2 separate regions of the Homo sapiens genome follow, and region 1 is linked to region 2. Evidence: fine-mapped QTL for protein levels in blood plasma. A gene starts in region 2. The other region holds a variant in brackets. All regions are shown on one strand. Distances are between the middles of the regions.

Region 1 (2,902 bases), 18 kb before region 2:
TCCCAAAGTGCTGGGGCAAAAGGTACTTCTAACATGGCGGCAGCAAGAGACAATGAGGAAGACGCAAAAGCGGAAACCCCTGATAAACCCCTCAGATTTCGTGAGACTTATTCACTATCACGAGAATAGCAGGGGAAAGATGAGGCCTATGATTCAATTACCTCCCCCTGAGTTCCTCCCACAACACGTGGGAATTCTGGGAGATACAATTGAAGTTGAGATTTGAATGGGGACACAGCTAAACCGTATCAGTATCTGCTTTTGGTAAGCTGCATGACCTTGGGCAAGTAGCTTTAACTTCTCAGAGCATCACTTTCCTCACCTGAAAAGTGGAGATGATAAGAGCTGATTTGTAGGGGTTTTTTGAAGATTAAATGAGATCACTTTTGGATATCACTTTGCTAAGGGGCTGGCACATAGTGGACTACCCAGCCATGCCACTGTTCCGTTCCTCCTTCTTCTTTCTCCTCCTTCCTATTCCTCCTCCACTTCCTCTCTTGTTGTTGCTATTACTATTATTATTATTATTATTATTACTAGCTAGCCAGGCTGCCTGTATTTCTCCAGAAAACCATTACCCATGGTTTAAAAAATCCACCCTTGGCCAGGTGCGGTGGCTCACGCCTGTAATCCCAGCACTTTGGGAGGTCGAGGTGGGCGGATCAGGAAGTCAGGAGATCAAGACCATCCTGGCTAACACAGTGAAATCCCGTCTCTACTAAAAATACAAAAAAAAATTAGCCGGGCGTGGTGCTGCACGCCTGTAGTCCCAACTACTCGGGAGGCTGAGGCAGGAGAATGGCGTGAACCTGGGAGGCGGAGCTTGCAGTGAGCCGAGATCGCCCCACTGCACTCCAGCCTGGGTGACAGAGTGAGACTCTGTCTCAAAAAAACAAAAAAGAGAGAAAAGAAAAAATATCCATCCTTGCTTCTACTCTCTTAGAGGCATATAGAGTTGCCCATATGAGAAGCAGCTCAATTACGATTGTTGAATGCATGGCCTCATCACTTTTGGTTTGGAGCTCACAGTTGAAACCATGTTTGTCGCCTCTGTCCTCCATGGATTAATATGTGCAGCCTGTCTCTCCTAATCAGATGTCACTGTGGCCTCTCATGGTATCCCGAGTAGTCACACTCTCCAGAGAATGGCCACCCCTCCAGCCCTTGGGGTACTCTCCTATGGGCCACTTCAAAGGGAGTTTTGCCCACTCCTCATAGCCTGTATTTTAAGTCAAATCATTTGAAATAAGCCCTCCAAACTGGGTGGAAAACCTCCCTAGGCATTTTTATGTGAAGTGGAAACAGAAAATCTTATTTTTATAGAAAGACTCCTCTGGGATCTCACTATCTAGTAGAGAAGACTGGGGCAGCCCTGAGGTTTGTGTTACAAGAAAGGCTTAGGAGGGAAAGGCGTCTAGGCCAGCTTCCTGGGAAGGTCACATAAATTCCTGCTTAGCATTCAGCGTAGGCTGAGGGCACACCTTCAGGAGACAGGAGCAAACAGACTCCAGCTCCTCTTCCATATTCTTCCAAAGCAGTTTTGGTGAGTACCAGGACCCACTGCTGTTGAAATGCACACCCACTCACCTCACAGTGTGGCCCAGAAGGAACCAGAACCCAATAGGA[G/A]AGGGGCAGAGTTATAAACAACTCCACTGGCTACATCACACTGTGCTTATCGCTGCAAATATTGACTCTGGAGGATCAAACAAGTGGCCAAAAAAAACAATAATATTTTCCCCAGAGAGAAGGTCTTGTTCCAGACAGCCAGGATCAAGTCGGATGGGCAGGCAGTGACAGATGGCACAATGCAAGGTGAAGGTCTCCATGCAAGGGTGATGCTCTCACGTGGTAGGTCCCCTTGGAACTGCTATGCCCAGGGAAGGAGAGACCAGACTCAGGGTGCCATCAGGTGGTCTTAAAGAACACAGGGCATCCCATATCGTGGATCAGAGTTCTCAAAGTCAAGAGATTGCTCCAAGAGGCAAATGTCCACAGCAAAGATCCGACTCCAGGTTTGGCAAACATTGACCTGAATCCCTTCTTTGGGTCAGACATCCTCCCAGAAACCTCCAAGAACGATTCCACACAATCCTTACAAAAGCCTCATGAACTAGGTGTTCTTACTCCATTTTGCAGATGCAAAAACTGAGGCTCCTAACAGTTTGATGACTTGCAAAACAGGTCACATTGTAGGTTATCTGGCAGAGCTGGGATAAGGACTCCCCAGTAAGTGCCTCTAAAGTGTGCTGTGCTTGTTCTGGTTGTTTCGAGCTCTGAGTTCTTCTGGGTTACAACTCAAATGCCCCTTACACAGTGAAAGTCCAGAGAGCAGGATTCTGGACAAAGAGCAGGAACTGAGGTCATTGATTGGCTAAGCCTCAGGGTTGTTTACTATTTTGTAAAGATGTGGATAGAAATAATTATTGATTCTGCATTCTGGCTCTTGGGCAGAAGGCACAGTTTTGAAAGTATCGGCAAGATGCCCAATGCTGCACCCTAGCCATGCAGTGTGTGTTCCTGTGTGTGTGGGTGGGTGTGTAGGTGTGTGTGTGTGTGTCTAGTGCAATTGTGGTAGAGGTTTCATTGTGACCCTCTAAAACCTCCCTTCTGCCCAACCCCCAGACAATGATACCTTACAGCAAGAGCAAGCTTGTCCAACCTGCGGCCCAGGATGACTTTGAATGCAGTCCAACATAAATTCGTAAATTTTCTTAAAACGTTATGATATTTGTTTGCAATTTTTTTTTTTTTAGTTCACCAGCTATCATTAGTGTTAGTGTATTTTATGTGTGGCTAAAGACAATTCTTCTTCCAATGTGGCCCAGGGAAGCCAAAAGATTGGACACCCCTGCCTTAGAGTCCCTTGGCCACTGATTATTATTATATTATAGCAGAGTCACCT
Region 2 (2,864 bases):
GCTGGAATTACAGGTGTGAGCCACCGCGCCCGGCCCCATTTCTGTGTTTTTGCTTCAGGTGGTCCCTCTGCCTGTGCCCTTGCTAACCGCCCATTTCCTCTGGTAGAATTACAAGCTTCAATTTCAGCTCCGACTCACCCAAGAAACTCCCCTTTCCTCAACCACCACATCACCTCTCTACCAAAATATTTCTTTTCTTCAAAGCCTCTGATAAACATTTATTTATTTATTTTTTATCTTACCAAAGTCTTTCCCGATAACTCTTCCCAGCTTGGCGTCTTAAGACCAGGTACTTGCCTTCCTGGAGGCATCTAGGTCACCTTCAGAGCCAGGTGGCCATTGGGTTAACTAGCTGTTGAACTGAATCAAACAGGCTCTGAGCCTTGAAGTCAGAAAGAGCCAGAGTGGAGGGGTCTGGGGGGAAGAGGGGCGCTGAGGTATAGGGAGATGAAACCTGCGGTGGAGGCAGCTTAATGGTCCACCTGTCACCCAAGGAATCTCTCTGACAGGGGTCTTTGTTAGGGTCACACCCCAGGAGATGGTTGATTATGGCTGAGTCCAGCCTGGAATGATGGGGGTTGGGGGCAGCTTGGGTAGATGACTCAGTAAATCAAACAGAACAATGAAAGGAGGTCATGCTTGTCCATCTGCATTATTGAAGACAGCCATAAATGGCCTTACCCCAGAGCGGGTCTGTCACACCTGGAGAGCTGATCTGACCTCTCCAAGACCCCTGCAACTGAGTGTTCTGGGATCTGTCCTGCAACAAGTGCCTCGAGATTTGTAGGTGGGGGCCCAGGGTGCTAAGGGATTATTTTAGCGGGCGGAGAAGGGAGGGGGTCTGCAGACGAAGGGGGCAGGTTTTGCGGGGCACTTAGGGTTCTCATAGGTTGTAGTCACGAGCTCCCAGGTTTGGAAAACTGCAATAGTCACTAAGACCATTCGGGGCTGTTTGGGTCTAGCTTGGTCTAGACGGGTCTGAAACTCCGCAGGACCCACCCAACAAGAAGTCATTGTTCCAAGCCACGTGTCAGTGGTGGGTGATACCCCAGGATGGAAGGAGTTGGTATGAGCCGACTGAAATCTACTTGAAGGTCAAAACGGAGCCTTATGTCTTTTGTGTTCCCCAGCGGTTAGCCCAGTGCCGGCCACAGGGGAAGCGCGCAAACGAAGTCCTCGCGAACTGAACTGAGAGCAGACAAAAGCACGCGCTCTTCTCCACCGCCACGCCGGTCCTACCCAAACCCGCGAGTTATCCGTATTCTCCTTCAGGAGTCATAGTCAGGCCAGAAGAGTGCGGAGGGACGGGGCCCGGGAAGAGCAGGGAACCCCCAGAGCCCGCAGCCAACGCGGAGGTGGGCGAGCGGGCGTGCGCGCACTCACTTGCCGGCGCGAGGGAGTGTCGGGGGGGAAGGGAGTGGTCTCCAAAAGGGGGAGGGGAGAAGGCAGGGGGCGGGGAGAAGCCGGCCCTTTAGGACCCGGCTGCGGCGGCGAGGGAGGAGGAAGAAGCGGAGGAGGCGGCTCCCGCGCTCGCAGGGCCGTGCCACCTGCCCGCCCGCCCGCTCGCTCGCTCGCCCGCCGCGCCGCGCTGCCGACCGCCAGCATGCTGCCGAGAGTGGGCTGCCCCGCGCTGCCGCTGCCGCCGCCGCCGCTGCTGCCGCTGCTGCTGCTGCTACTGGGCGCGAGTGGCGGCGGCGGCGGGGCGCGCGCGGAGGTGCTGTTCCGCTGCCCGCCCTGCACACCCGAGCGCCTGGCCGCCTGCGGGCCCCCGCCGGTTGCGCCGCCCGCCGCGGTGGCCGCAGTGGCCGGAGGCGCCCGCATGCCATGCGCGGAGCTCGTCCGGGAGCCGGGCTGCGGCTGCTGCTCGGTGTGCGCCCGGCTGGAGGGCGAGGCGTGCGGCGTCTACACCCCGCGCTGCGGCCAGGGGCTGCGCTGCTATCCCCACCCGGGCTCCGAGCTGCCCCTGCAGGCGCTGGTCATGGGCGAGGGCACTTGTGAGAAGCGCCGGGACGCCGAGTATGGCGCCAGCCCGGAGCAGGTTGCAGGTAACGCGGTCTGGAACAAGTAGTTGGGAGAAACTTGGAGGGCAGCGGAGAAGCCCGACGGGCGGCTGGACCTTACGGACGGTTTTAGGGGCGGCAGAGCCGAGACCTTGGACCAAATCAAGGGGGACTGTTGCTAGCGGGACGCGGAAGTCAGGCCCGGGGAGGGGAACTGGAGTTAGAGCAAGTGGAAGAGCCCTGGCGACTCATTTGGTGGGGATGAATGGGGAGAGGAAAGGCATCCCTGCTGCCATAGTTTTACCCGCGTGGAACGGACCCAGACTTCTATTCTGGAGGAGGGATTTGCTGAGAAGGGGGCCGGTGGTCAGATCCATGGGAGTAGGAACTCGAATCTTATTTGGGGCACTGCTTGAGGACCCAAGGGTCCTGGTGGGATCGCTGCTGGGAGGCGGAGGCTGCGGGGTGCCAGTGACACCAGGAACCTTGGAAGAGGAGAGGGAGCTAGGAGGAGGCACCGGCGTCCCAAGGGGCCCTTCCTTCTACTGGGGTTGTGAGTTGGAAAGAAAGGACTTGGTACTTTGTAGGATGAGTCGCTTAGGAGAAAAATGAAAACCACCACTACTATTTCTCCATAGGGAACGAGCAGGGCTCTTGCTACCACGTTGAATGGAAAAATAAAAGGGAGGCATTTGGTAGGCGAGGGGTCTCCTAGCAGCTGAATCAATGTAACTTAAGCCCGATCGCCGGCTGCATTCCCTGGACGGGGGCAGCCAGGCTGTGCGGTTTCGCATCTGGGCCCCAGATCGAAAGGCAGGAGAGATGCGTTGCCACCCCCCACCCCCGCCCCTATCTTAAATTGAG

The links. PIP is the posterior inclusion probability: the model's chance that the variant is causal. The UK Biobank Pharma Proteomics Project read protein levels with antibody pairs (Olink). The fine-mapping took linkage between variants from a reference panel, not from the people measured, so its PIPs are less certain.
Region 1: its variant is fine-mapped to the plasma level of the IGFBP2 protein (UK Biobank, PIP above 0.99).

The regions. Positions count from the first base shown.
Region 1 is chr2:216,614,075-216,616,976 of GRCh38, forward strand. No RefSeq gene overlaps it. Among named protein-coding and RNA genes, the nearest start is that of LINC01280, 8.6 kb to the left of the region's middle. RefSeq lists a silencer at 1,132-1,426. The variant G/A (reference allele first, on the strand shown) is at 1,627.
Region 2 is chr2:216,631,921-216,634,784 of GRCh38, forward strand. IGFBP2 (insulin like growth factor binding protein 2) reads left to right here and starts at 1,500. Exons shown (of 4, transcript NM_000597.3): 1 at 1,500-2,045. The coding sequence starts at 1,604.